Homo sapiens: one gene and its partners. The protein of the gene in region 1 interacts with the protein of each later gene in a biochemical or structural test. Each region holds a gene or a part of one and is shown in the gene's direction. Other genes may lie near its edges.

What was found.
Region 2: the proteins of USP45 (region 1) and MRGPRF form a complex in vitro, tested with the Homo sapiens proteins (one study listed by BioGRID).
Region 3: of the proteins of USP45 (region 1) and SPDL1, one has a biochemical effect on the other in vitro, tested with the Homo sapiens proteins (one study listed by BioGRID).

What each region holds. Positions count from the first base shown.
Region 1 is NC_000006.12:99,508,917-99,520,169, reverse strand, and holds the start of USP45 (ubiquitin carboxyl-terminal hydrolase 45), read left to right. Parts: upstream 1-4,746; 5' UTR 4,747-4,778; exon of another isoform or gene 4,779-6,129; intron 6,130-9,939; 5' UTR 9,940-9,949; coding exon 9,950-10,049; intron 10,050-11,253. UniProt on the Homo sapiens protein: Catalyzes the deubiquitination of SPDL1. Plays a role in the repair of UV-induced DNA damage via deubiquitination of ERCC1, promoting its recruitment to DNA damage sites. May be involved in the maintenance of photoreceptor function.
Region 2 is NC_000011.10:69,008,723-69,020,246, reverse strand, and holds the start of MRGPRF (mas-related G-protein coupled receptor member F), read left to right. Parts: upstream 1-7,000; 5' UTR 7,001-7,164; intron 7,165-7,698; exon of another isoform or gene 7,699-7,893; intron 7,894-8,915; exon of another isoform or gene 8,916-9,724; intron 9,725-10,278; exon of another isoform or gene 10,279-10,289; 5' UTR 10,290-10,345; coding exon 10,346-10,393; intron 10,394-11,524. UniProt on the Homo sapiens protein: Orphan receptor. May bind to a neuropeptide and may regulate nociceptor function and/or development, including the sensation or modulation of pain.
Region 3 is NC_000005.10:169,598,055-169,606,811, forward strand, and holds the end of SPDL1 (protein Spindly), read left to right. Parts: intron 1-421; coding exon 422-525; intron 526-917; coding exon 918-1,105; intron 1,106-3,225; coding exon 3,226-3,571; coding exon of another isoform or gene 3,572-3,770; exon of another isoform or gene 3,771-6,005; coding exon 6,006-6,153; 3' UTR 6,154-6,724; downstream 6,725-8,757. UniProt on the Homo sapiens protein: Required for the localization of dynein and dynactin to the mitotic kintochore.

The sequences.
Region 1 (11,253 bases):
CATCTTCGAAGTCCCTTTTGCCAGTTAAGGTAACACATTCACAAGTTTCAGGTTTGTAGAACATGAACATCTTTGGGGCAGGAGGTCATTATTAAAACTACCACATAAAGTTTCTCATTATCTTATTTTTTATTTATTCTCAGGTTGGTTCCCAAACATAATAAAAGCTATATTTAACTGCAAATAGATTTACAGTTAAAAATTAAAATATTTGACCAGGTGCTGTGGTTCCAACCTGTAGTCCCAGTTACCAGCAGGCTAAGGCAGGAGAGTCACCCGAACTCAGGAGTATGAGGCTATAGTGCACTGTGATCAGCCTGAGTGACTGAGTGAGACCCTATCTCAAAAAAAAAATTAAAATATTCATGTTTAAATGGCATTATTAAAGTGTATGTCCAAGGAATCATTTCATTAAGCATTTACTTTTAAATTCTTCAGTTATCAATAATTTAATAAGCTATAAACCATTTCAGATTTCTAGACCAATGACATCATTTATAATTATTTTCCAAATAATTTGGAGCTTAACCATAGTCTCCGTGTAATTTATTTTGTGGATTCACTTTTAACTAAGATATCACTATATACTGTAGATTCATGTAGTCTCTGTGGCATCCTCATTCTAAATATACATCATAAATCACAGGTAGTATGAACACAAGATAGGGAAACAATATACTTGGCCTCACTGAATAATATTTAATCTGATTTCTGCTTTTGCAGGAGAAGTATTACTAAACAATTATTCTTTTAGGGCTCATAACTAATTATTATTTAAAAAATATTTTTATGTAGGACTTTTTTTTCTGAGGAGATAAATATGCCTTTCCATATATAGCACACTGCTAAACTTAGTTTATTTAAGAGTCCTTGCAGCAAAAAGATCTTGTCAAAAGAGGTTCTTGATCATTGTTCCTAGTTATCTTGATCATTGTGTCCAAGTTATTCCATCATTGTTAAGGAATAATTTAAGCAAGACTTAAAATTGATAAAAGAGGGAGAAATAGTTTTCACTTTTCTGAGAAAGATTTACTAGTGCTGAGTTGATATGAATCATTAATTCTCAAACAACTAATTTAATTTTTTGTTGTTACTCATGTGTTAGTGAAAGGCTATTGGAAAGAAGACTTTTTTTCTTTTTTTTTTTTCTTTTCTTTTCTTCTTTTTTTTTCTTTTTGAGGCAGATTCTCACTCTGTTGCCCAGGCTGGAGTACAGTGACAAGATCTCGGCTCACTGCAACCTCTGGCTCCCGGGTTCAAGCGATTCTCCTGCCTCAGCCTCCCCAGTAGCCACCAAGCCTGGCTAATTTTTGTATTTTTAGTAGAGACGAGTTTTCACCATGTTGGCCAGGCTGGTCTTGAACTCCTGACCTCAAGTGATCCACCCGCCTCAGCCTCCCAAAGTGCTGGGATTACAGAAGTGAGCCACCACGCCCGGCAGAAGGAAGACAATTTTTAAGAGACTTGGGATTTTTCCCTTTTCTTTTTATTTTATTTTATTTTTGACCAATAAAGTCATTTCACACCCATTTCTTTTAAAATCAACTTTAAGTCCCCATATAACAGACTAATAAAATGAAAAATTAGGAAATGTATGGCCTTTCATGTGATTCTCTTTTTTTTAAAGAATTTTTATCAAAACTTTAAATGAACATCTGTTGACTCAGCATTTCCACAGTGAACAATTTACTGAGAATACTTGTGTTAGTAAGCAAAGACAAGTGTACACTAACAAGAAACTGATGAAAAAATAAAAACATTCATTCACAAGAGACTTAAGCAACTGCTCAAAAAAGTGAGGCTAATATGGCCCAGCACGGTGGCTCACGCCTGTAATCCCAGCACTTTGGGAGGCCGAGGCAGGCAGATCACCTGAGGTCAGGAGTTCAAGACCAGCCTGGTGAACATGGTGAAACCCCGTCTCTACTAAAAATACAAAAATTAGCCAAGTGTGGCAGCGCATGCCCGTTGCCCCAGCTACTCGGGAGGCTGAGGCAGGAGAATCGCTTGAACCCGGGAGGCAGAGGTTGCAGTGAGCCGAGATCATGCCACTGTACTCCAGCCTGGGTGACAGAGCAAGACTCTGTCTCAAAAAAAAAAAAAAAAAAATAGGTTAATATGAAAATATGTCTGACATATACTGTGAAGTGAAAAATTCAAGTCATAGAAGAGAATGTAGACTGTAATCTAAGCTGTGTTATCTTTTAGCATAAAGGTAGTCATATAAAAACATGGTACAAATGCCTGGTGTACGCACAAAGACAGTGCCTAAAACTATATATCAGAAAACAGCAAGCAGAGAAGAGGAAATGGGAGTGTGGGAAGGAGGGGAAGATGAGAAACCAGCAGGTATTACTTTTAAAATAAAGAGTGTATCTTAAAAATATATACTTGATATCTGGTTCAATTTGGTGTTTGATAAAAAGGAGCTGGGCTCGGTGGCTCACACCTTTAATCCCAGAACTTCGGGAGGCCAAGGCAGATGGATTGCTTGAGGTCAGGAGTTCAAGACCAGCCTGGCCAACATGGTGAAACCTTGTCTACTAAAATACAAAAAAAAAAAAAAAATTAGCTATGTGTGGTGGCAAGTGCCTATAATCCCAGCTACTAGGGAGGCTGAGGCAGGAGAATTGCTTGAACCCAGGAGGCAGAGGTTGCAGTGAACTGAGACCATGCCACTGCACTCCAGCCTGGACAACAGAGAGAGAATCCGTCTCAAAAAAAAACAAAAAAAGGAAAAAAATACACTTGATAGAAATATAAGAGGAATATATATAGCCTACAGCTTAACAAAGATTCCCCATATTTCCAAACAGAACATGATGGTAAATTTAAGATATTTAGCATTATTTGGAAAATACATGGTTAGGTAATCTTAAGGTAATCTATATTTTTATTTGATGTTTTGTTATAATGTCATTGTAATAGCACTAAAACATACTTACTGAGTAATATTTAAAAATAATTTCCTTTCTTTGAATAATCCATCAAGTAGTAAATTTTACATTCAATTAAGTGAAAAGGTAAATGAGGAACATCAGAAATAAAATAAAATAGTGTTAGAGAATTTTCCTTAATTTATGCCAAGTTTTGAAACAAAGAATGAAATCTCTGGAGATTTTGGTTATGCTAAGGGTCTATCTAGTGGAAATCAAGATAGCTTTGAATTTTGTCGTTTCCAAGAAAATTTAAGTATTGTATGGTATTTGATAATTTCTAATTTTTTTCTTATGAAGAAAAGAACCTAAATTTCCATAATCTAATTCAATCCCTTTTAAAAAATCAATCATAAACTGGGTTTCCACATATATTTTTTAAAATCTCTTTTACAGTGACACAATTAAGATGCAAATTATTTAGATTTGCTCAAGTTTGCTTGTTCTTGTTCTTCCAAGTTCTAGGTCAAATCCAAAGTTAAAATACATGAAAGCTTTTGATTTATGAAGTAGACAATTTTGCCTTCAAAATTACACCACATGACCTCTTCTTATTTGAGGAATATTTTCTTTTTCCCTAGGGAAAAAAATTATCCTAACCCCAAAATGATAGTGTACCTCTATACCTGTAACAGCAACTGGCATATCTGTGCTCAATTATGTTTGTTAAATGAATGGTCCTTGTTAAGTACGATATAAGCAAATATCAACCTTCTTTGCCAAGTTCTCCACATGTAAATACTGTTAGAAGAGTTTTTAAAGAAAAATTTAGTGTTTGCAATTTTAACTCTCGTATCTTCTGATTTCTACGCCAATGCTCTTATCCTTAAAGCCACATTTGTCCCTTGGCTGAAGAGTTGTGAAAGATCAGGAGACTTTTAGAACCTATCCATAACCAGTGTTGGCATTTGCAATATCCATGATTGAAACAAAATATTTTCAAACCAACTACTTTTACTAAACATGCAATGTGCTGGCCACTTCAACAGATAACCGGGCTTTGAGGAGGTATAGGTGTATTTCAAGAAATGTACTATCTAGCTAGGAAGAGAGAAGGATAGGTAAGACAACAGCAATGGGGGAAAAACCACAATAATATATGACGAATGTTAGATGTGACTTTAAGAGTTCAGGGGGCGGCGGGGGTGTGGGGGCGGAGCCGGGCGCGGTGGCTCAAGCCTGTGATCCCAGCACTTTGGGAGGCCGGGGCGGGCGGATCACAAGGTCAGGAGATCGAGACCATCCTGGCTAACACGGTGAAACCCCGTCTCTACTAAACAAAATACAAAAAATTAGCCGGGCGTGATGGCGGGCGCCTGTAGTCCCAGCTACTCGGGAGGCTAAGGCAGTAGAATGGCGTGAACCCGGTAGGCGGAGGTTGCAGTGAGCCGAGATCTTGCCATTGCACTGCAGCCTGGGCGACAGAGCGAGACTCCGTCTCAAAAAAAAAAAAAAAAAAAAAAGAGTTCAGAGGAGGGTAACGGAGGGAAATCGGAGGCTGTTTCAGAAGGTGCCCAGCAACAAGTGGGACTTAAGCCGGACTCCTGCAACATCCGAGGTGCGCACGCTGGCCCAGGATCCTAACAAATTGCTAGTCGGTGGCTATGAGTCTTAGATTATCAGGGACTCTCCGGGCTCTGCGGACACGCAGAACGCAGGCGCCACGCAAGCCGGCCCCGCCCTTTCACCCCTCCCCGCGCTCCCGGGCCCCGGGCGCGCCGCCTGGAACCCTCCCGGTCCTGGCTGGGGGCGGGCGAACGAGGCCCCACCTCTGCCGGGAGCGGGACGAGCGCGCAGGCGCAGTCTCCCCAGGTTGTAGACGCTGCGGCCCGGCCCGGCGGGGTGAGTTGAGAACGCGGCGCTTTGGTCGCAGCGGCGGTATGGTCGCCGCAGTTTCTCGGTCTTCGCTTCGGCGACCTTGACCCCCTTGTGGGTGGGCGAGGCTGGAAGAGAGGCTCCCCACCCCACTCGGCTTCCTGATCCCTGGGGGCGCCGGGCGGTCACCGAGGGCCGTGTGAGCGCCGCTCTGCCGGCTCCGGGTCCATGCGGCTGCGGGAGAAGCCCTGGGCGTCGGGGCTGGCCTGGGAGGGGCCCGAGTCCCCTGGTGACCTGGGCGCGCGGCGGCCCCACACCTTTCCGTCCGCCTCATCGCGGCGCATTTCTCTTCACATCCTCGGGGTGTGTGTGTGTTGGTGACCGGAGGAAGCCTGTCTAATGACTTTTCTGGAAGCGTCGTGTATTAGGAGCTCCGGGGCCGGACTGCTTGGGTCCGCATCTCCATCCACCGCTTACTGGCTTTGGGACCTCTGCAAGTCACTTCACTTCTCTTTCTCAGTTTCAAGTGTAAAATGCGGAAAATAATAGCAACTTATCTCCTAAGGTGGTTGTGAGGGTTGCGTGGGTTAATATTTGTGAAGTGCTTAGAACTGAGCGTGATACACAGCAAAACCATAAGTGCTGCTCATCTTTTTGAGCTTGGTATATAAAAGGAGATAGTGACCTTTTCTTCTCTTTCCAACCCCCATAAATAATTGCCCAAGAGTAGGAAAAAAGGATTTTTTTTTCTTAAGGATATGGGCTTTTTGCATAGCCTGTTTAAAAACAAAGCTTTCTAAACAACTTAGTTGCACATCCTACTTTAGAGAAAAGACAAGTGTTAAGTGATGGTGACTTGAAAACTGTAAAGTTTATTGTTTGGAAAACCGCATGAGAAAAATGGCCAGAACATATTTGTGCTAAAAAGAGTTAACATAGCAGGCCTTAAGACTGCTATCCTTAGAAAGGACTGCTTGCAATGTTGGTGCTTGTTTGGCATCTGGGAACTTAGATTTTTGGGTTTGTGCTGAACAGTATGTTTTATGCCGAAATTACCAGCTTCTGTAAAAATCCGGGACACCAAGTCTTTAATGGGCTTCCCTGCGCGGAAACTGCTGCATTTTCACTGATGGAGGAAGGATGTGTTTTGTTTGACCCCTCTTGGGAGGGAGACCGCATAAGGAGCCTACACGTGATTCCTCCAGACTCCGCTTGTGTCTTTTTCTATTATGATGAGCCTTTATATCCATACTGCATTGTGTAATAAATGTCAGCCATGAATTCAACTATATGTTGAGTCCCGTGCATCCTATCAAAGCTCTAAATGTGGGGGAGATCACGGAGATCCTCAGCCACAGTTTTGTAAATTTGTATAAAGGTAAGGGATATAAGTGCCGTTTTTTTACGAGGATATATTTCCTAGTGGTACTGGGCTTTTAGTGTAACCATCACCTGAATAATGTACATTGTGTCCATTAAGCAATTTCTCATTCCTCACCCCACTCCCATCCTTCCCAGTCTCCAGTGCCCAGACACAATTTTGATGATAAAAAGTATTGGAAGCTCTAATAATTGGACTTTTAATTTTGCCCTTTTGCCTCAAATGGAAATTGGAAAACTACAGATAAATAATTGCCGAATTCTGGGTTACTGTACCAAATGATTCTGTCTGTTTAGACATTACATATGGCAGAAAAATCATCAGAAATTGCCTCTACATTACCAAGTTAATTTTGAGTCAGTGTTTTTGAAAAAAGGCACAGGTTGCTTACAGTATGTAGGTCAAATGCCTGGTTTTGTTTATTATTTTGCTAGCATTATCTGTGTTAATGCTCATCTTTATCAAGAGCTTATCTGTACCACAGCGAGAAAATATAATCAGTTTCTCATAGGCCATTTTCCCTGTACTTTATTAGTTATACCTATCTCTTTTCAGGACATCAAATTTAAATTGATGGAGGTAGGTTTGCAAATTTGGGGTTAGAAAGATCAAATTTGCCGTCTGCTTATGTCTCTTTTCCCTTATAAAAGACTAGATCAGTTTTTGGTAAGTTAGTTGGGAGTTGGAGGGGTTAGAGGTTTGAGGAAAGTGAAGAAGATTTGAAATGGCTCTGTGGATAGTATGTAAGTTGACCAGAAGGTGAAGTGAATAATAATGGACCTAGTCTGCTTTCTTAAGAGACTTTCTCCCGACATGGAGAAAATGGTTAATTGGGTTCATCTAGGATTGGGTTCTGCGAGAGAGGTGATGTAGTCCTTAAGGCTCTGCACAAGTATTCCGGTTCACCTATTTTTGGGTACATGTAATGCTGCACTCTTTGTACATGGGCAACCCCTCTCCATGTCTGCTTGAAGTTAAATGTGCCATGTGACTTGCTTTAGGAAGCAGCTCTCCATTTGCCATTTCCACTTCTCCCTGCCCTGCTGTAAGGGTCATGGAAGGACTTGTTGAGATGCAGCCTCTTGTCAGCCTGGACACTATAGGAAAATATGAGTGGCTGATCAGGCAAGTTGGAAGAACTGGGAAGTTGCTGTCAGAGAAGGGGATACTTAAATTAGTGATTTTATAAGGTGGAACTGTAGGGGAGAGTAGATGAGGAAGTTTGGAGGGAGAAGGTAGAGATGAAGTGCTCAAGGAACTCAGAGGCTTTTTACATGTTCCTAACCCGGAAGCCCTTAATTTATTGCAACTTAGTTCAGTAGTGATGACCGTTGGACTTAATGGTAAACTTGAAAGCTCCCTTATTGTGAATTATGGAATGAATAAATCAAGATTTGGAATTTAGTACTGAATTGAAAGATTCATTACCTTGATCATTGAGAAGTAAGTCAGCAACCATGAAAATTGCGATGTTGCTTAGCCACCAGGCAGGAGAGTAAAAGGTAGGCCAAGCTACTCTAACAGAGACTCCAAAATATAGTAGTTTTAAAAAATGCTTAGCTTGTATCTAAAATCTTTGATAATTAACTGAATTTTTAATAAATATAAGGGATAGAGGTAAATAACACTATGAAGAAAGAGACAAATTCAGTGTGAGACATTATATAACTTTGCTGTCGAAAGAGTATTCTATGGGCCCCCAGCAGTGGCTTCAGTTAGAAGCTTTTTAGGTAGGTAGAATCTCAGGTCTTGTGCCAGACTTGTTGCATCAGAACTTTCATTTTAACAAGACCCTCAAGGTGACTCATGCACTGGCCTGATCTCTTTAAAAAGCTAAAGTCTTAGGCAAGTAACAGGTTGGAAGAACTGTTCTGTTAATAGATTAAAAGATACTAAAGAGACATAACCAATATCAAGTGCAAACCTTGATTGAATCTTTTTCAAAAAACCAGCTATAGAAGACAATTTAGGGTCAACTAAGGAAATTAGAATATGATGGAATATGAGATGATATTAGAAAATTATTAATTTTCTTAGATATGATTACATTGTTATATAGGAGAATGTGCTTATTTTTAAGAGATACATGCTGAAGTATTTAGGGATGAACTGTCAAGATCTCTACAACTTTCAAATAGTTCAACTATGTGTATATATATATATATATATATATATATATATATATATATATACACACACTCACATACATATATGTGTCTCTCTATACACACATATTGATATTTAGATAAAAACAAACATAGCTAATTGTTAATAGGTGTGGAATTGGTGGGGCACCATGGCTCATACCTGTAATCCCAGCAGTTTGGGAAGCCAAGGCATGTGGATTGCTTGAGCCCAGGAGTTCGAGACCAGCCTGGGCAACATGGGGAAATCCCATCTCTACTAAGAAATACAAAAAAATTATCTGGGCATTGTGGTGTGCACCTGTAGTCCTAGCTACTTGGGAGGCTGAGGTGGGCGTATCACCTGAGCCTGGGGAGGTTGAGGCTGCAGTGAGCTGAAATCAGGCCACTGCACTCCAGCCTGGGCCATCAGAGTGAGACTTTGTCTCAAAAAATAATAATAGCCGGGCACGGTGGCTCACGCCTGTAATCCCAGCACTTTGGGAGACTGAGGTGGGCGGATCACGAGGTCAGGAGATCGAGACCATTCTGACTAACACAGTGAAACCCTATCTCTACTAAAAATGCAAAAAAAATTAGCCAAGCCTGGTGGCACACGCCTGTAATCCCAGCTACTTGGGAGGCTGAGGCAGGAGAATTGCTTGAACCCAGGACGTGGAGGTTGCAGTGAGCCGAGATCCATCTCAAAATAATAATAATAATAATAATAGTAATAATAATATAAATGTGGAATCTAATTAGTATATGAGTGTTCATTATACTGTTCTTTTAACTTTTGTAGATGTTTAAAATTTTTCATGATAAAAAGCTAGAGTGAAAAACCCCCAAAAATGTAGTAGCTTAAAAAGATAGAAATTTAATTTTCTCTTAATATTCCAGTGCTAGTTGTACAACACAGGTATAGAGTGGCTTTACTATGCTTGGCTTACAGCTATCCATTTTTGATCCAGTATGGCTCATCCAGCTCCTACTATTTCCTTGCTAGCAGAAGGGAGGAAAGGGTAAAGAGAACTCATTATCCAGAAGCAATACTTACTCCGTTGATGAAAACTTTAGTTTTGGTCATTCACCTGGACATCATATATTTAGGGGTTGTGTCTTGGTTCAGCCTGGTATAGCAAATTATTATAGACTGGGTGGTTTAAACAACACAGACTTATTTCTCACAATACTGGGAGCTGGGAAGTACAGGGTCAAGATGCTGGCAAATCTAGTATCTGGTGAGGGCCTTCTTCCTGGTTTATAGATGGCCATCTTCTCGTATATCCTCATGTGGATACAAAGGTAGCTTTCTAGCCTCTTATTATAAGAGGCCAGTCTCATTCATGAGGGCTCCACCTACATGACCTAATTACCTCTCAAAGGCTTCACCTCCAAGTATCATCACTTTGGGGATTAGAGTTCAACATATCAATTTGGAGTGGGGACACAAACATTTAGTCCATAATGGTATAGTTGGCAAAAGCCAATGGAATATACCATGTGTATACTGATTTAACAAAGATTTATTTCATTTCAAGTGATGTTCCCCTCTTCTTCCTCTGTTGATTTCCCGGACCAGTTGAAATTGAAGTCATTTCAGTTTTAATACACATTAAATAAAATATAAAATTTTAATTTTGAAGACTAAAATGTATGAATTTTTTTCCCTCAATCCCTTCAGTAAATAACAGATGCGGGTGAAAGATCCAACTAAAGCTTTACCTGAGAAAGCCAAAAGAAGTAAAAGGCCTACTGTACCTCATGATGAAGACTCTTCAGATGATATTGCTGGTAAATTGTGATATATGGCATCCCAAATAGTGTTGAGAAGAAATAACAATGCAGTTGACCCTTCAACAACATGGGTTTGAACGCTGAGGATCAACTTGTACACAAATTTTTTTCCACCAAACCTAGATGGAAAATACACTATTCTTGGGATGCGTGAAAACTGCATACTTGGCAGGCTGACTTCTAAATGCAGATTCCACGGGGCCCACTGCGGGACTTGAGTATGCACAGATTTGGGTATATGTGGGGAGGTCCTAGAACCAACTACCCCACCCCACCTCCCTGCCTCAAGTATCTGAGGGAAGACTGTATATGTTTTTAATTAAGAAATCTGTTACTCTTTATTTTTACTGTTTTCTGCATAAATATTAGAATCACCTTTTCTAGTTCCAAAAAATCCTGTTGGCATTTTTATTAGGATTTTGTTTAGTTTATAACATGAAGTAACTTAGATTGGCTTTTTTTTTTTTTTTGGTCTCTTTCTCATGGCCTATTAAAACCATGTCACCAAGCCACCAGAGCTTGGCAGATGGCTTTTGGGAGCTGCTGGCCTCAGGGCTTGGTTTTCTCTTTAGCCTCATGCTTTTGATTTGGGCCTCTGAGGATTTTCCTCACTTTCTTGCTAGTTCTCTCCATTTAAAGGGATATTTTTAATATATTTTTTCCATTTTAGGTATGCATAGTTGCATACAGCTATACACAAACACACTCACATATGAGTGCCTATGTCTTCTGAAATCCGAATAAGTTCTAAGGATTGTACCAACGTCAGCTTCCTGGTTTTGATATTTTACTATAGCAGTGCAAAACATTAACATCAGGGGAGGCTCAGTGAAGGGTGAATGAGACCTCCTTGTATATTTCTTTATACCTTCCTGTGAATCTAAAATTAGTTCAAAAATTTAAACTCTAATAAATTAGGGACATCAGATAAGGTCCTAATGATATTTAAAGAGATAATTCAGACATCCTTCAGTGCAGCAAACTGGCTATCGAAACATCATCCCATTTTAGTACATGTATAGCTTTGTATAACCACCACCAATCAAGATACTTGACTGTGTCATCACCACTCTATGTGCTGTCCATTTATAGCAACACCCTCTGCCTTGCGTCCATTGCTCCCTACAACCATGAATCTCTTCTCATTCTATAATTATGTTATTTCATGAACATTATATAAATGGAATTATATAGCATATAT
Region 2 (11,524 bases), on another chromosome or scaffold:
CGGGAGGCGGAAGTTGCAGTGAGCCGAGATCGTGCCACTGCACTCCAGCCTGGGCAACAGAACTAGACTCTAGCTAAACAAAAAAATATATAAATTGCTAAAGATAAATTTCATACTATGCACAATTTATCACAATTTTAAAAAATGTTCCTGGAATTAAATATTTTTAAAGAAGCAAAAGTGACTTGAAATATACACACCAACACACCTACACCCATCCCCCAGTCAGTGTTATCTGTTCAGCCATCCCATGGAATCAAGCCTTGGGGAAATTCCAGATTCAAGAGATGCGTTCGAGGCTGAACATTCAGAAGTTTTGTCTGGAAATAGCTGCTTCTGATAAAAAGTTTATAGGAAACATGGTCTCTCCCAAACAGAAGACCCCAGATCTCTCAGACTTGAGAAAGCAAGAGTTTTGTACTAGTTTTGCACCAGTCTCAGGGGAAACTGTGACGAAGTTTGATTGGGTTTGAAGACATATTTGAGTTTTGTTTGCGTACCAGTGGCAGGCCCAGAAGGAAAGCCCGCACGTGACCTCAGTGTTCAGTGCAACTTCAACTCCTGTTTCCCTCTCTCTTGCTGCCCCAAAGCAGGAGTGAGCTTCCCGCCAGGCCCCTGAGGGTCCGACAGCCATCCTGGCAGCTGCTCTCAGCCTGTCTCTGGCTGCTCAAGCCACCCTCGCTGAGGACCTACCTAGGGTTTGCAAGTGTCTGTTGCCATAATAATCCACAGAGAAGGCAAGGGCAGTGGTAAGCTGAAGACAGGACCCCTCAAAGCAAAGTGGGAGAGAATTCTCAGAACTCTTTTCCTTCCCTGTAATGTTTCTTGGGGTCACCCCCTAAAATAAACTCCTTGCACCTCCCCACTAAAAGGTTAAGTCTCGTTAAAAGAGTATCCGCATGGCAAATTGACAGTTGGAGTGTGCTGGACCTGGACGGCCTCTCAGTCCCATGACCTCCTCCTATGGCTGGAAACTGTTCCCCGAGTCCCTTCCATGACAGATGCTGGGTCAGAGTTTCTCAATGAGAAGGGCTCGTGGTGAGGTTTGGAAGGTGAGTCAGTTGGGACCCGTGATTCCCAGGAGGCCATGGCGCCCAGATGCAGTGGCTTCACAGACCTCCCCACGAGCTCTTCCTTCAGGCTTGTGGCGGCCACACGGGGCAGCTTCCCAAGCTCTTCCAGCTCCAGTACCCACACAGGGGCTGGCCAAAGTCCCAGTGAGCGTTCCTCTGATTCTCTGACTACAGCTTTCCAGACTCGCACGCCTCAGACCTGCCCACGCCACGTGTGAACCCCTATTTCCCTGATAGTGTGATGTGTCTGTTTCTTGACCCAAGTCAGGGCCGGGGGAGGAGGAGGGCAGGAAGGAGAGAGACTGAGGAAGAGGGACAGGGAGATGCTGCGGGGAACCTGTCATTAAAAGGAGCACATCAGGCAGGGCACGGTGTCTCACACCTGTAATCCCAGCACTTTGAGAGGCCGAGGTCGGGGGATCACATGAGGTCAAGAGTTTGAGACCAGCCTCACCAACATGGTGAAACCCCGTCTCCACTAAAAATACAAATATTAGCCAGGCGTGGTGGCACTGCCTGTAGTCCCAGCTACTCAAGAGTCTGAGGCAGAAGAATCGCTTGAACCCGGGAGACACAATGAGCCAAGATCTTGCCACTGCAATCCAGCCTGGGCAACAGAGTGAGACACCGTCTCTCCCCAACCCCAAAAAGAAGCACATCCACTCACGGGCCTTGTTTAGCTTGTGACACACATGCAGAGCTGTAAAAAAAGTGTGCAAACACTGATTGGATGTTGAATGATGTTTAAGGAATTATTTGTTATTTTTAGGAGTGACAAGGCTACTGCAAACTTTTTGAAGGTTAGTTATTCAGTCCTGTGCTGAAATTGAAGGTCTAATGACGGGACATCACGGATCCGCTTAAGGCGGGACAGAAGCAGGCGGGTGTGGACGAGGTAGACCAAACCTGGTGTCCAGGCTGCCCTGGAAGTTGAGGTGGACAGGGCAGAGGAGGGATGCCAGTGGGGTGCACCACCCACCCACGGGCAGGCACCACACCGAGGAGCTGGGTGTGTGGGAAGGACTCTGCTGGGGGCAGCGAGGAGAATGCACCTGGGAGGCACCAGTGAGGGGTCTCAGCAGGGAGGTGGCCCAGGGGACGGGGGAGAGATGGACACAGTCAGGCAGTATCTGGCATCAGGGAAGTGGGGAATTGGAAAAGGCAGAGAGTCCCACATTGGAAAGATGGGAAACTGGAATGTCCAGACCTCAGGGCTCAAGGCAGCAGCTCTGTGCCTGGACTTACAGGGGCCTGTAGGGTGCCTCAAGGCCCTACCCTCCTGCCCAGCCTGCACATGCACCCTCCCCTCCTGCCCTGCAGCCACCCACTTTGTTCTCCTAGTGCACCAATCCTTTCCATCACGGGGCCTTTGCACCTGCTGTTCTTGATCCTGGAACACTTTCCTGTGGGTTGCGTGAGCAGCCACCTCCTCCTTCTCCTTCAGGTCTCAGTGTAAGCATCATCTCTGTAGAGGAGCCTCCAGCCCCACCCCAGCTAATCAGGCCTGGCCATCCCCATGGATTAGTTTCTTGTGGCTTCTGTAACAAATGACACAAACTTAGTGGCTTAAACAACACAAACGTATTCTAGTAAGAGTTCCAGAAATCAGAGGCCTAAAGTCAAGGTGTTGGCAGGGCTGGTTCCTTCTGGAGGCTCTAGGGGACAGCTTGTTTCCTTGTCCTCTCCAGTTTCTAGAGGCAGCCTGCATTCTTTGGCTGGTGGCCCCTTCCTCACATCAACACATGGCCCACTACTCATTCTGATCTCCTGTCTCCTTCTTACAAGGACCCTTGCAATGACATAGGGCCCACCTGGATAATCCACAATGATGCTCCCATCTCAAGACCCTTCACTCCATCCCAACTGCAAAGTCCCTTTGGCCAGGTGCAAAGTCACATGTTCTCAGGATCTGGGGATTAGGACATCAACATCTTTAGGGGCCATTATTCAGCTCACCTCCCATCCCTCCCTGCCTACCACCTAAGTTTCTGTCACTATGCCTGTTTGGTTTTCTCAATGCACTAATCACAGGTTGGAGTTCTTATGTTCAGTTTTTTCTATTTATCACCTGCTCCCCATGCCCCATGTCTGGTTCTTCCACAATTCTTTTCCTAGCACCAACATTGCTGGTGTTCAGTACAAATGTGTTGAATTAAGGTAAGAATGAATGGATGGGTGGATGGGTGAGTGGGTGGGTGGATGGCTAGATGGATGAATGGATGGATTGATAGATGAATGGATGGATAGACGGATTGATGGATGGATGGGTGGGTGGATGGATGGATGATGGATGGATGGATGGATGGATGGATGGATGGATGGTTTGGTGGATGGATGGATGGATGGATGGATGGATGGATGGATGGATGGATAGATGGATGGATGGATGGTCTGGTGGGTGGGTGGATGGATGGTTTGGTGGATGGATGGATGGATGGATGGATGGATGGATGGATGGATGGATAGATGGATGGATAGATGGTTTGGTGGGTGGATGGATGGTTTGGTGGATGGATGGATGGATGGATGGATGGATGGATGGATGGATAGATGGATGGATGGACGGTCTGGTGGGTGGGTGGATGGATGGATGGATGGATGGATGGTTTGGTGGGTGGATGGATGGATGGATGGATGGATGGTCTTGTACTTGGATGGATGGATGGATAGATGGTTTGGTGGGTGAATGGATGGATGGATGGATGGTCTGGTGGGTGGATGGATGGATGGGAGGATGGATGGATGGATGGATGGATGAGCAAGTAGATGGGTAGTTGAGTGGGTAGATGAGTAAGTGGATAGATGGAAAGATGGACAAATTAACAAATGAATGGTCTACCACATGCAGGACAGAGGATAATGTGGACTTTTGCTGAGATTCCCAAGATGCACCTTCCAGCACAGAAAGGCCCAGCCTAGTGGAGGAGGGGAACAGAGCAGAAGGAGAGGGGTCCCTTTCACTATTAGGAAAGACAGCTAGGCCTTGGTTCAACCTTTTTTCTTTAGACAGAGTCTCGCTGTCTCACCCAGGCTGGGGTGCTGCAGTGGCGTGATCTCAGCTCACTGCAACCTCCACCTCCTGGGTTCAAGTGATTCTTATGTCTCAGCCTCCCAAGTAGCTGGGACTACAGGTGTGTGCCACCATGCCCAGCTAATTTTTTGTATTTTTAGTATAAATGGAGTTTCACGATGTTGGCCAGGCTGGTCTGGAACGCCTGAGCTCAGTCAATCCACCTGCCTCAGCCTCCCAAAGTGCTAGGATTACAGGCGTGAGCCACCACACCAGCCGAATGGCCCTGCACACCTTCTTCATCGCAGGTGCATTTTACTGTGTTTCCTTTGACCTGGTCTGCCTCTCTGTTGGACATCAGCTCCCGGAGAGCAGGGACCTTGCCTGTCCTATTCATCAGCACAGAGCACAGTGCCTGGCACCCTGCAGGTGCTCAGGAAATACCTGTAGTCTTTACTGAGGATGGTGCTGGCTGCAGAGGGGCCACGAGGGCTGGTCCACACCCACCCCCTCGTCCAGGGAGCAGCAGGGCAACCATAGGCCACAGAAGCACCTGGCAGGGAGACATCTCTGTCCAGAACCGACCTCCTTCCCCCAAGGATCCCCCCAACAGAGGAGGGTCCAGGCCTGCACCCTCAGGAGGGGACATGGGGAGAGGCGTAGGACCATGAGGCCCTTGGCAAGGGATGATTAAAAACAAAGTTCTACTGGGAGGGGCAGGGGAGGACTCCTGACGGCAAGTGGTGGCTGTTTAGAAAGTGAAGGCTGGACGAGCAGGGACCATGCCCCATTCTCAGCATCAGCCAGAGCCCTGAGCCTTGCAGGGAGGGCCTGGCACCAGCGGGACACCTGGAGCAGGGAGCGGCGTTGCTGAGGTGCATGAAGAGCTCTTTCTCCCGGCTCCTCCCGGCATCCAATCCCTCCTTGCTATAACCCTGTGGGTCATTATCTTTTCCCATCTGACAGCTGAGGAAACCAAGGTCCCCAGTGGGAAGGAAACTGTCCACGGTCACCCAAGCCTGGAGGCAGCACAGGAACTCCTTGCACTGGGCCTCTGGGCACCACCCCACACACACAGCCCACCACTCCCCCAGGGGGTGGGGAGAGACCCCCAGGGTGGCTGCTACAGACTGCATGTTTGTGGCCCCACCCCCTGCCCTGCTGCCCCACTGCCCTGAATTCATGTGTTGACATCTAATCTCCTGTGTGAGGTGGGGTGTTTGGGAGATGAGCAGGTTATGAGGGTGGGGCCTCATAATGGCATTAATGCCCGAGTAAAAGAGGCCCCATTGAGCTCCTTCGCCTGCCTGAAAGGGGTCACCACATGGGGACTCAGTGAGAGGCTGGGTCCTCACCAGACGCTGAATCTGTGGAGGCCTTGATCTTGGCCTTCCAGCCCCCGGAGCCATGGGAAACAAACGCCTGCTCCGATAAGCCCCTGGTCTGCGGTACTGCAACAGAGCAGCCGGACACACCAAGCCCACGGGAAGGGGACTCCACAAACTCAGGCCAGGACGACCTTCCCGTTTACAAGCGCCTCTCGCTTATTTTGAGAGAAACAGATTTCCATACCAAATAAGGCGGTGGACTTCAGAGCCTCTGCCCACTTCACACAATTCCTTTTAAGTGTCCAAACGCAATTACACTTGGAACTCGCCGGGATTCAGCCTCCCCCGGCCTCCCCATGTAAACAAGCGTTCCAGCTGGGCCCCAGCTGGCTGCCCTGGAGAGGAGGGGACGGGTCACCACCCTGCCTGCTGCCTCCAGCCTCTCTCTCAGCCTCAGGCATGGCCCGTGAGCCTCCAGGATCCCAGAGTCCCTCCTCACCCCATCCCTGAAAAACGGACCCCAGGAGGCCAGCTGAGCCGCGCAGGGAGCAGTGCGAGAGTCCCTCTTCCACGCTGAGGTTCGCACATGGCCAGGACAAGCAGGAGGCAGGCAGCTCCCAGCGCAGGTGCAGGGGCAGCTCCGCTTCTCATTTCCCTTCAAGATGCCCACAGAGGCACATCTCTCCCAGTCTGGGCACTACACTCCTGCAGGGAAAGTTCAGAATTCCCTCGGGCTTCCTGGACCCTGAGAAAGTTGGCCCAGGGTAGGAGGGGAGCCTTCTCATCACCCCCTCCTCCTGGCCACCCTGCTGGCTCCCGCACCCCCGACTCTGCACCCCCACCCCTACCAATGCTCAGTGCCCCAGGCATGAACGCGTTCCAGGACCCCCCCCCACCGCCCGCCTCCAGGGGCTCAATGGGGAAGGGGGACCTGACTCATCCTCCCGCTGAGCAGCGCAGGCACCAGGCACCACAGCCCGCCAATTTCCAGCTTGCTTGCCGAGCGCCGTGATTTTCCACTTGCGCCATCTGATTGCTATTAGGGCTGGGGAAAAGGGAATTCCTGGTTCCATAAGCCCCCAGGGGGCCCAGGCCGAGTCCGGGGTGGGAAGGGGGAGGGGTGCCGCTTGGGCGGTGCTGACCACCTCTGCCAGTTCTGCACTGCCCCTCCATGGAGCCCTCGCCCTGCTGCCCCCCACTGCTCTGTATCAGCCCCTGAGTAAATTAAAACAACGGGGTGGGGACTAGCCCCTCCTGGGCCAGCCTGCCCCGAAATGCCCACTGGGGGCAGACCAAAGACGCCAGGCAAGTGTACAGCCGGTGCTCCCTCTCCTGGGCAGCCCTGCCGAGCAGCAGAATGTGAGGGAGATGAACAGCTGGACTCGGGCTGCAGTGCTCGGGCCAACGTGACGTCACCAGGCGGAGAGATGAGTTCCCGGTGGGGCTCTGGGGGGGGCTCCTGAGCGGGGCATTCCTTCCTGAAGCCTCATCCCCGCTCAGCCCTGCTCAGCCCCTCCTCCTACTCCCCTCCCCCTCCCCCTCCTGCCGGGCCAGGAATTGGGTTTGGGGCGGGTTCTGCTTCCAAAGCCATCTCTTCCAGCAGGAGAGGGCTCTACTCTGAGCTCCTATTTTCCAAGGCTCCGGGCCGCGCTCGGCGCTGGCCTGCTGCCCCGGCGGGTCCGCCGGCCGGAGGCGGGAGTCACAGGAAGAGCCCTCCACAAAAGGAGGCCTCGGCGGATCAGGACAGCTGCAGGTAGCTCCAGGGGCCCAGGGTCCAGGGGAGGGTGTTCCAACAACCGGGGCTGCAGGGTGAGGGCCAGGCAGGGAAGGAAAATGACGCGGGCACTGTAGGGGCAGAGAGGTGGACGCTGTCGGGGCAGGCAGCTCCCAGAAATCCTAAGGCCCCAGGCAGGGAGCCCTGAGACCCCAGAGAGGCTGTCACTCACCGGAGAAGCTCCCCTGCCACTCCTGAGGCTCCAGGGTTCCAGGGCCATGGAGGAACTTTAAAAGTCCCCCTCCCGTGGCAGGACCTGACCCCTCTCAGCTGGCCTCACCCCCAGCCCCACCGTCCAGCTCCTGCTCTGTGCTGCTGGGGGTGAGGGCTCCCTCTCGGTCCCTCCCCCAGCCTCACTGGCCATTCAAGCATGCATTCTAGAGGGGCTGGAACGGAACACCCAGCAGGCAGTGTCCCACACACAGGGAGATGGCTCCCCCTGCTCTCAGCCCTGGGGTGCACATGGGGTGTCCGTGTGGGCAGCCACAGGATGTTGGGCAACTGCAGTCCCACCTTCTCCCAGGCCTGCGGCCTGATGAAGCTGTTGGCCTTGGATGGAGGCGGCTCCTGGAATGATCTGCAAGGTCTCAGTCCCCCCAGACAAGCCTCTTCAATCCAAGCTGTTAAGCAGGGGACTCCAGACCCGGAGTGAGGAAAACAGAGGCTCTGTGTCTGGGGGAGCGAGACAGGCCCCTCTGATGGCGGCACAAGCGGCTAAGGAGAGGGGCTGGGACAGCCCCAGCGGCGTCGGGGCTGGGTCATGGTGGGATGGAGTGAAGGGAGAGGAGGAGCTTCCTGCGGGCAAGGCTGCAGGAGGCTGACAGGTGGCCAGGCCACCCTTGGGCTTGCTCCGAGGGGAGGGTCAGGTGTGAGCTGTGCTGGCAGCTTTTTGGGTCAGCTTCAGTGGAAACTAGTTCTGTCATAGCAGCCCAGATCCCACCCAGAGGAACACACATACACATGTACTGACACGCACGCCCCATCCACGTGTCACACACATGTCCTTTAATATGGCCCATCTGGGGTCTGCTGGCTTCTAGATCTTTCTGTGCATGCGTGAAATCGCTTTTCAGGTTGTCCCTGGCAGGACAAGGACAAATGCACAGGGACACCCACATAATGGAGGGACGCAGATGGTAGAGAGGGGAGCTGGGGGCCCCCACTGCATGCCCACCTGCAGCGTAGGGGGGAGCCCAGCCCACTGCCTTTGGGGCACTAGTTGGTGTGGCTGGGGTCTAGCCTGGCCAGGGTGAATGGATGAGGCTCCTGTGAGTCAGGACATCTCTGGAAACAAGGCTGGGGGCCCAGACCTAGGGGTGGTGGGTGTCCAGAAGGGCCACCAAAAAGAGTAGGGGCAATGGAGAGAGCTTGGGGGGCTCTTACCAGGCGCCCGGAAGGATGAGGGCAGGTGATAGGTCTGGGGTTGCAGGGCAGGAAAGCTCAGACAGGCCCCAGAGCGTGGAGAAGTTACGGCCTGTCTGTGGCAACGGGACAATGGCCCAACTGGAGTCCAAGGAGGGAGACTTAAGATACAGGTCGCAGCACCAGCCATCTGCAAGCCCACTGCACACACATCACAATGCACTGGCTCACTCCGGCACACAAGGTGCCCCCACCCTGGGACACCCCGAAGACCCCAGGCTGAGTCAGCCGTAGGCCAGGCACAGGTGCTCACAAACGCCCTTTGAAGGCGCAGAGCGGCGCGGTCTGGCAGCGCGGGGCCGAGGGGAGCCAGGCCACTGGGTGGGAAGGGTCCTGGGAGCGGCCCCTGGGGCCACACTTGCGCCACCAGCTCCGGGAGGCCCAGGGTTAAAGAGGGGGCGGGCCACACGCGCAGACGGCCACCTCTTCTAGCCAATGGTGGGCGCGGAGGCCAGGAGTACGGCCCGCCCCCGGGCGGGAGGAGTGCGCGGCGGGCGGGGGCACGTGGCTGGCTGAGGCCGGGCGGACCCGCGCGGCGCAGAGGAAAGAATTTCCGGGGAGTTGAGCTGAGCAGGATGCCCAGCTCTCCCCTTGGGAGAGGAGGGGCCCGGCAGCCTGCGACCTGGGCTGTGCCCAGCAAGGCCCTTCTCCGCTCACAGCCTCAGTTTACCCCCCCAGTACAGCAGGGAATAATAATAGATGCTTCTCTGCGGGGAAGGGGCACAGGGCTTCACGGGGAGAAGCTTCCTCCAAGGGGTGAAGCTCAGGTTGGGGGACCGGGATCAATTCCAGAGGACCCAAGGCAGGCAGACCCATGAGGTCTGGCCGGCCAAGGTGGACCAGCCTCCAGCAGGGTCACCCCCTACCCCAGGCCTCCCATTGGCAGCCCTAGGGTGGGTGCAGCTTCCCCTCTCTATGCCAGCAGTCCCTCCCTACGGCAGCTGCTCGAAACACAAATCTGCAAGGCTGCAGGGCATGGTGTGGCTATGGGTGTGCCTTTGGGCAGGTGACCTCACCCTCTAAGCCCAGGAGCGCCCATCAAAGGGGCATGAGGATACCTGGCCCATAGCTGGTCATGAGGACCAAACCAGATGATGGGTGTAGGCGGGCTGGCAGGGTAAGTGGTGGTGACAGTGATGCTGATGACCGGGCTGTCCTGCCTCCCAGGCACATGTAGGGGAAAGGCCAGATGCCTTAGCATGTTACAAACCGCGGCTCAGCCAAAGCCCTCCTCCTCCAGCAGGTTCCCCCTGCCAGGAATGATCCCTCTTCCCCTGCTCCTCCTTCTGGGACCGATTGCTGGGAAACCCCTGTCCCCACACCAGGCAGGGCACAAAGGAAGTGCCCCAAAAATGTGTGTGGGGAAGTAAATGTATGTCTGCAAAAGCAGCCTGGCTCCAGAACTCTCACAAGAAAAGGGAAAGGAGAGGGCTTCTTTTCCAGTGAGCTGCGGTGGGGCTGACGCGGAGTCCACAGGCAGGAGGGGGCCGTGCCCCAGGGGTGACCTCCAGAATCTCACCAGGACAGTCCCACAATGCCCCTGCTGCTGAGGGTGTGGGGTGATTGCCTTTCCTCTAAGGTGATGGCTGAGAGCCACAGGCCTTGGGGGCCTAGGCACGGGGGTCCAGGAAGGGGAGGGGTCCCTGCTGTCCTCATCCACCCTCTCTCTGGGCTTCTGCCAGGTGGGTGTGCAGACTGGTGAGCTGCCAGCAGGGGCCCAGACGCGCCAGGCCTGGAGATGGCTGGAAACTGCTCCTGGGAGGCCCATCCCGGCAACAGGAACAAGGTAAGTGCCACAGGCGGAGGGCCCTGGTCTTGCCCAGACGGGTGTGGGTGGGAGGGGCAGACCCAGCCCAGCATCTCCTCCCCCATCCCCCCCTTCCTGGCCCCACTTTCCAGCTCTGGACCCACCGTGGGCAGTGGGCTCCTCTGGGCTATGTGGCCGGGCACAAGTTCCCTGGACCCTCCTACCCTCCTGTCCTCATCAGTGAGGCAAGCACCAGGACTGGACCTCAAGGTCCCTCGCTGTGCTGACACTGTGGTCGCCTTGTAGCATCCTTGCAAGGTCTTGTTTCATCTCTTCCCTGCAGAGGTGGGGCAGTCAGCTACTTACTACAGCCAGGCGGGCCAGGAAGCCCTGGGACGCTGACTCCAAGGTGGCCCTGATGTCATGTGCTCCATGGAGCCTAGGGGGTCCTGGGCCACCCCGAGAGTGTTGCCCCAGGCCAGGGTCCATTAGTCATGAGTCACCCACCCTGAGACTCTGACAACCCCTCCAGGCTGACCCTCCTCCTGCCCTCAGCCAACCTAGTCCCCTACTTCTCTGAATCCCTTGAAAATTCTGGGATTTCCTTCGCTCTCAACTTCGAAGGATCTCTTGAATTCCTATCCATCCTCTTCTGCATTTGAGGAAACTGAGGCTTACACCCAGGTAGTAACTTGACTGGGATCAGCCCCTGGGTCAGGAGCAGAGTGGCAACTCCAGCCCAGCCCTGGGGATCTCACCCCCACGCCCTTGGGCCTTGGGCCCTCTCCCTCTTCCCCGTAGTGACCGCTGTGGAGTGGCGGCCGCAGGAGGCAGAGGTTGGACTGGTAGGTGGGGTGAGGCAGTCTGCAGAAACTCCCAGCGCAAAGGCAGAGCCCAGGGTGGGGCCGGGCTCCAGAGCAGGCATTCTACAAGGCAGTATGCGGCTGGTCACGGCAGCTACACGCCCAGTGACTCACCCGGCCTCCCCCTCTGACTCCAAGGAGGGGATTGCAGACTTTTTCCAGCGTGCATGCATACAAGAGGCACTGAGTAAGCTGACCGCCTCCATCCAGCCCCTTGAAGCCCAGCTCTTTCCCAGCACCTGAGCTGGTCCTCTTGGGCCTGTTTGGGCACCAGATCCTACGGTCTAGTTCCCCAGCCCAGAAGAGT
Region 3 (8,757 bases), on another chromosome or scaffold:
GAGGGGGACACCAGATATAAATGTAAGGCTCTCATCTTCCTTTCATATTTTTCCAGTTTATGGTTTTGTTACAAAGGCCAGAATTTAATCCAGCAGGCATTTGTTTTTCTATTTTCAAAGCCAGGAGAGAGAAGGCAGAGCATGTAGGTAAGGCTAGAAGCCTAGGCCTTGTAGTCAGATTTGGGTTCAGGTTCTCTCTTCTTGGTTTACTTTCATCTGTATTCGGAGCCTGTTTCCTTATCTGTAAGAGAGGAATGTTAATTATTTACCTACTTCAGAAGGCAGATAAATTAAATGGGTAGTTCTTAGCGTAGTACGCCAAGGGATATAAATTCAGGAAGTGATGGTGCTATTATTAATAAACATACACTAACCTTATTTGTTATTTATTTTAAGTAATACAAACTTTTGCTTTTTTAAGAATTTATATGACAGTATGGAATCTAAGCCTTCAGTCGACTCTGGTACTCTGGAAGATAACACCTATTATACAGATTTACTTCAGATGAAGCTGGATAACTTAAAGTAAGTGTCTGGGTTGGTGGATGGAAAGATGAACATGTCACTTGCTTACTATGGTAGTGTCAGTGACTACAAAGTTTTTTTGAAATTGCCAAAGGAAATTTTCCGAAAAGAAAGGTAACAAAAATATCTTTGTGCAGATATTCATGTGTGAATACATTTGAAAGACTATTTCCTCCTTTGTCCATTTCCTTTCAAGAATGCATGAGTATTTTTTAAATTTAACACTACTATTGTTAAGGATTATTTAAATTGTTTATTGTTTCTTTGTTACTAAAAACCCCAGAAAAATGTATTTTTAACTAAGAATTCAAATATGCGATGAAATATTTATACCACTACACTTATTATATGCTGTCTTAATACTCGTTGGTTCTCCTTTTTTATTATCATAGCAAAGAAATTGAAAGCACTAAAGGTGAATTGTCCATACAGCGAATGAAAGCATTATTTGAGAGCCAGCGGGCTCTAGATATTGAGCGAAAACTTTTTGCAAATGAAAGATGCCTCCAGCTTTCAGAAAGTGAAAATATGAAACTGAGAGCTAAACTAGATGAATTGAAACTAAAATATGAACCTGAAGGTATATATGTCTCATATATTTTTGTCTTTTAAATTATGAGTAACCTGAAATTATATCAAATTATTTTCTTACTGTAGTTTTATGCAACTCTATTACAAACTCATTTGTAGTTATATACCTATAGTTAATAAAGCAAATTTATTGTGTAAAATAGGTAGGAAAATTCAGGGAGAACTGGATACTGGGTGTGCCTGAATATAACATGTATCCTTTTTGGATATCTAATTTCATCATACTGTATAGTAGAAACTTGAGATTTGAGACTTTCCCATTTTAAGATTACAGTATTTTATGTCATACCTAATAGTTTAATTATGTTGAAGCAGCTGATGTTTGGAAGCTATACGAGGTAGGACTGTTTATAGAAAATCTAAAGTAATGGAGACTTTAAAAAGGTGGGTCTTTATCTCTGCCTCTGATGGAAGTCTGGAGGAGGCCTTCCAGGACTGGGAAAGCACTCCACGGTATCAAGATTCAGGCTTCTTGTGTTTGTTGGTCTGCTGCCATCCTGTGGAGCAGAATTTAGTCATGCAGCCTCACCTGCTGACAGGAAGGGCTGAGAAATGCAGTCTTGATTCTCAGGGGCCATGTTCCTAACTAAATATTGGGAATTCTTTTATTAAGGAAGAACAGTGAGCCAGGCGTGGTGGCTCGTGCCTGTAATCCCAGCTCTTGGGGAGGCAGAGGGAGGAGGATAGCTGTGCCCAGGAATTTGAGATTTGCTTGGGCAATATAGCAAGACCCCATTCTCCACCAAAATGGGGGGGAAAGGAAAGAACAATGAAACATATTAGGGAATATCTAGCAAGTCTAATGACTGAGCTGGAAAGTAGCCTAACCATACAGTCTCTGCATCTTATATACTACAGAGAGTGAAGTTTACTGTATGTAAATTCAAAAACAAAAGGCCAAGTGTGAAGGAGTCTAAGAATGTGATGGTTCTACAACACCCCTTCCCTAAAAGAGTGTTACATGTTTTAGGTTAAGGATTCTCAACAAGTTTTTGTCCCCGCACTCTGCACATGCCTCAGTCTCTCTTCGTATTGTCTCAGTGAACTGCTATGATTCTCAACAATAGTGGGGAGGTTGCCAAAAATAGGAAGGTTTTTACACAATTTTAAAAGGCTTCTCTTGCTCTTAACTCTTTTTGTTTCTTCCATGATTCTAATAGGCTCCCCTGATTAAGAATTATCCATTATGAATTTCAAACATCTGTTGAACTGAACACAGCAAATAGACAGGAGGCAGGGTAGTGAATCCTGATAATGTGGGTTTCAAAGGAGCAGTGCCAGAAAAAGGGGAAATCATGGTCTAAAAGCAACAATGTAGAGCAAAAACAGCAACCCCTTGTGCTACCAGTGTTCCTCAGACTCCACTAACATTTTGATTTTGAAAATGAAACACATCGATAATGGGCATAGGGAAAAGATATTAGAGCAGTTAATTCAGTGGCTGTGTTTATGACCTGTTTAGATAGAATGATATTAGGCCATGAGGATAGAAGGCATTGCAGTAGTCTTTGATGAGACATGATAGGATTGGACTAGGGAAGTATCCATCATAAAAGTAGTCTGATTCTGCTTATATTTTGTAGGTAGAGCTAACAGGCATATATTACCAATATTCAGAAAGTTTGGCCTATTCTTGTCATTTAATCCTTCTAATACACAATACCAAGTGAAGTGGGTGCTTTTAATCCCCATTTTACAGATAAAATGAAGCTCAGAGAGGTTAAATAATTCCCCAAAGACATGGCTGTCACATACGAGGATTAGGATTCGAACCTGGACTCTGCCGCTGTCTCTTCATCTCCACACTGAGATCTTATGAACCACCTTTTTCAAAACACCAAGAGAGAACAGTGAAGCATTCATGCCTAAAGTCAAAATATTGAATTCCCAAGGAAAAATATATAGCCAAATAAACTTTAAAATATATAGTTTATATAGATTCCATGATAAAGAATAAAAGGTAGAAACAAAGGATGCATTTCAGTGAGGAGATGGTTGCATTTTAAAAGAATGGAAAAAGGTATACATATAACTAGTTCTGGCTTCTTGTGTTGATTGTGTCTTTGTTTTCTTAGATTTTTTCTTTTCCCCACTCGTTTTTATTCTCAGAGACAGTTGAAGTGCCTGTACTGAAAAAGAGGCGTGAGGTGCTCCCTGTGGATATAACCACCGCTAAAGATGCATGTGTCAACAACAGTGCTCTCGGGGGAGAAGTTTATCGATTACCGCCTCAGAAAGAGGAGACACAGTCCTGCCCTAACAGTTTAGAAGATAACAACTTGCAATTAGAAAAATCAGTTTCTATATACACACCAGTAGTCAGTCTCTCTCCTCACAAAAATCTGCCCGTGGATATGCAGCTGAAGAAGGAAAAGAAATGTGTGAAACTCATAGGAGTTCCCGCTGACGCTGAGGCCTTAAGTGAAAGAAGTGGAAACACCCCTAACTCTCCCAGGTCAGTGTCCTCTTTTCCTCCAGGCAGCCAGCAGACCTCTCCATCTCTCCTCTCTCGCTGCATGAACTGTGCTGTCTGTTTCTTTATCTACTTTCTTACAATTGCATGCAGTATAATTCCTCAGTTTCATCTACCTACCTTCAACTTTTCCAGAACTTTAAGAAAGACTAAACTGATTGCAAAGGGAAAGGACTCTTGAATAAGGCAATCACATTAAAAAGTTACACGTTTCTGTTTCATGAAAGGGAATATCACAGTTTAACACATCTCTGAATGTTTTATCAGTTTGAATACATGTACTGTTATTTTTCTCCTGGTTCAAGCATGGCCATGAAAGAAAAATTAACTTACTTTCTCAAAGGGCTTTCCAGTAGTCTAAGAAATTTCAGCCTTCTAGGAAACTTAGGTGAATTTTTTATGTCTTTTGAATTGCTTATCCTAGGCATTCAAAAATGGGCTTCAATACTTATTTTGACATTTTTACATATCAAAGCTAACTCATTTTCATTGTTTCCAAAACTTGAAAGCCTCTAGTTTCTGCATAATTGAGTTTGTGACTAAAAGAAATAGCGTCAGATATGTGTGTCTGAAGGAATTAATGTCCCAAGGGCTTTGTCTTAATAAAAATAATTGAGGTCAGAAGGTAAGAGAAAGTGAATGGAAGGGAAAGGTAAGTAGCAGTGGCTGAGGCTCGAGTTCTGGATGTGCGCAGCAGGAGAAGTGAATGAGGAAATTGAAGAAAGTAAAAGAAAGATGAAGGATGTCTGCATGCAATGGGATTGTTAGAGGCATTTAAAACAAATATCTAGACATTCAAAAAGATGTGCCAATAACTAGCCTAGATTATCTCCTATGAAATGAGATGTTGAAGGTGCTACTAGGGCTACCTTAGTCTTAGAGAGTGGAGACAGATTAATAAGACATTTTACTAATGTGCATTTGAGTAGAGAGAGTAAGACAGCCCTGTTTAAAAGGGCTTATATGTTTTATCTGATTTCTCTCCAAGTCTTCAGTGCTACTAAATGTAATATTCAACAGTAAAAGCACTTTAACAATGTTAGCTGCTATTATTATAAGGCATAGTAATTTTATTACTCCCTCCTTGGATTTTTATAGAATGTTATAACCTCTGAGTCACATAAAATAAAAGCTTACCATTCTTAAGGAAAAAGTAACTTCAAATGAGTATCTGCCACATACCCATGGTTTCAAAGAGTTCTGAAATGAATCCAGCAGATTATGCCTGTTTATATGTGATGCATTGTATAAACATCCTTGACCAGTGTATATTTCTGGAGGTGGATTTCCAGAATTGATAAGTGCCAGCCTTGCTATCTGTATTGTCTTCATTCCTTTTTCTGCCTTTTTTTGCTTGATAAAAAATCACTTAAGCAAATGTATGTGGCTAATTGACTCAAGTAGCACGTTGGAAACTTTTTGTCTTGTTCGTTAAACAAAAAATAAAATACCACAAAACATTTGTGTGTGTGTGTGTGTGTGTGAGTCCATCTGCTAACTTAAAATGTTTCCGACTCTTTGTTTTCTGCCTGTTTAACTTAGATACACAATCCTAAGATAATTTTGGAACAATAAATATGGCTTTTATTGGGAACTTCACTATTGCATGCTTTACAAAACTAATTGGTGTTCTTGTTACCGAGAATCTTTACAGGCCTTTAAGAATCTCTCTACTGTTTATCTTTTCTTTATTCTACTAGTTGAAACTCAATTTTTTAATATGAAACAAATAGACATCTATTCATGCAGCCCAAGATTCCATGTTATTTTTGTCTTGCCTTTTGTATGTCATGTTAACATTAAAATATTGCTGTAACATTTCAGTTTTTGTGTTAGGTGTGCTTATCATGATAGGTGCCCTGTCATATTTTCTTTAATTTAGGGCTTGCCATGACTTTTTAAAGATATTCTTTAGACTTAAAAAATAATTGGCCCAGCGTGGTGCCTCACACCTGTAATCCCGGCACTTTGGGAGGCTGAGGCAGGTGGATCACGAGGTCAAGAGATCAAGACCATCCTGACCAACGTGGTGAAACCCTGTCTCTACTAAAAATACGAAAATTAGCTGCATGTGGGGGTGCGCACCTATAGTCCCAGCTACTCCGGTGGCTGAGGCAGGAGAATCGCTTGAACCCGGGAGGCGGAGGTTGCAGTGAGCCGAGATCATGCCACTGCGCTCCAGCCTGGTGACAGAGTGAGACTCTGTCTCAAAAAGTAATAATAACAATAATTGAGCCTATTGATATAAAAAGACTTTTAGACAGCCAGTGACTTAATATTCTTACAGTATTAGAGTCAACTATATTTTTTTTCCTTGAATACCATGCCTTATTGGAGGCCCATTATACTGGGGGTTTGTTTCTTCAATCCTTCATAACCACATTTGAATTCAGAGTGGATGCTTTAATGCCTGTAGGTTAGCTGCTGAATCAAAGCTTCAAACAGAAGTTAAAGAAGGAAAAGAAACTTCAAGCAAATTGGAAAAAGAAACTTGTAAGAAATTACACCCTATTCTATATGTGTCTTCTAAATCTACTCCAGAGACCCAGTGCCCTCAACAGTAAAGACTTGTCTTTAATAAGAGTACGGTGCCACTTGCCTCAAAAGTTACTATGGTGCTTAAGATTGTCTTGATCTGACATATATCACCTTCTGGGTTATTTACTCATTGTGCCAGGACCTGGCATTTTCATGTGCCTTTGACCAAGTGTTCAGAATTTGCTTGACTCTAACCTGGAGAGCTTCTTAAGTGATGCCCCTTCATGGAGCTTCTATGACAGTGAATAAACTATTAATTGAAGGAAAATGTTATAATTAATGTATCTATTTGCTGCATTGTATATGGATTAAATGATAAAAAACAAGTAATCTACCCTCAGAGCCATGTATTTGAGAATGCTTCAATCATATTTTCCTATGTACTTTTTTTTATAAACTTAGTTTTAGACTATGTTGTAAAAATGGGAAGGTTGTAAACTATGTTGTAAAAATAGGAAATGTGGCTTAAAATATATACATTATATTGTTTCAGGATTTTGTCAGTGTTTAAAGAACCAATGTTCATCTTTGTATTTATATACATGATTTAAATTTTGTCTAAAATTTTAAATAAAACTGCAGTGATTTATCCTTAAATTTCTTACTCTCTATAGGTAACAGGATGTTATCAAAAGGGAGTAAAAAGCACTTTGGGAGGCTGAGGCGGGTGGATCGCTTGAGCCCAGGAATTCGAGACCAGCCTGGGCTACATGGCAAAACCCCATATCTACAAAAAAATACAAAAAATTAGCTGGGCATGATGGTGCACACCTGTAGTCCCAGCTACTCTGGAGGCTGAGGTGATAGGATCATCTGAGCCCAGTAAGGAGGTCGAGGCTGTAGTTGAGCTGTGATCATACTACTGCACTCCAGCCTGGGCAACACAGCAAGACCCTGTCTCAAAAAAAAGTGGGGGAAATAAATAAGAGGAAAAAAGAAACCTCAGGAATTCTTAATTCCCTTATGTATAATTTTATATATAATTTTATGGTTAATTATATGTACATATACAGATGGTCTCTGACATAACAATGGTTTGACTTAATGATTTTTCGACTTTTCAGTGGTACAAAGACAGTATGCATTCAGTAGAAACTGTACTTCAAGTACCCATATGACCATTCTGTTTCTCACTTTCAGTACAGTACTCAATAAATCACATAAGATATTCAACACTTTATGACAAAATAGACTTTGTGTTAGATGATTTTGCCCAGTAGTAAACCAATGTAAGTTTTCTGAGCACATTTAAGGCAGGCTAGGCTGAGCTATAATGTTCATTAGGTTAGGTGTATTAAATGCATTTTTGACTTAATATTTTCAACTTATGGGTATATCGAATTGTAACCCCGTTGTAGGTCAAGGAGCATCTGCATATATACATACATAGATGATAGATAGATAGATAGATAGATAGATAGATAGATAGATTTAATTCTAAACTTTCCAAATACTCTTTCATTTAAATGATTATAGTTTTACAACAATTTCATATATTCTATAGGTAGGAGAATTAGGGTTTTCCAGAGAAATAGAACCAATAGGATGTGTGTGTATATAAAGATTTACTTTCAAGAATTGGTTCACATGGTTGTGGGGGCAAGTCCAAACTTGTAGGGTGGGCCAGCAGACTGGAGACCAGGGAAGGGAAGAGCTGATGAGTTCAAGTCCGAAAGCCATCACACTAAAGACCCAGGGAGATAACTGCCACTGCAGTTCAAGTTCAAAGGCTGTCTGCATCAGAATTTCCCTTTGCTGGGGTAGGTGAGTCTTTCCATCTAGGACTTCAATTCATTGGATGAAACCCATTCACATTAGAGAAGGCAATCTGCTTTAAGTCCACTGATTTAAATGCTGATCTCACCCAAAAACATCCTCACAGAAACGTTCAGAATAACACTATAAAGCAATTAGACCTAAAGAAATATGTAGCATACTCCACCCAAAGGAGAATACACCTTCTTAAGTGTACACAGAACATTGTGCAAAACAGACCAATGTTATGCCACAAATCTGGTCTCAATAAATTTTAAAAGTTGAAAAAGTATCTCGACTACAATGGAATGAAATTAAAAATCAACAACAAGAAAATCTGGAGAATTCACAAATACTATGTAGAAATAAAACAATACACTCTTTAAACAGCAGATGAATCAAAGAAGAAATCACTAGGGAAATATTTTGAAGATGAATTTTAAAATATTTTAAAATGAGTGAAAATGAAAACACAACAATAACAAAACTTGTTAAGTGTAGCGAAAGCAAAAGCCCTCAGTGGGGAATTTATATTTGGAGATGCCTACATTTTAAAAAAGAAAGCTCTCAAACTAATAACCTAACTTTATACTTTGAGGAACTAAAACAAGAAGAGAAAACTAAAAAGCTAAATCCACGGCCAGCAGAAGGAAGAAAATAAGAGATGAGAACAAAAACAAATGAAATTGAGAACACGAAAACAATGGAATCTATGGAACCTAAAGTTTGTTCTTTGAAAAAATCAAAATTAATAAACTTTTAGCTAGACTGATCAAGGAAAAAGGAGAAAAGACTCAAATTACTAAAATAAGGAATGGAAGTAGGGACAATACTGTCAATCTTATAGAAGTAAAAGGGGTTATGAGAGAACGCTA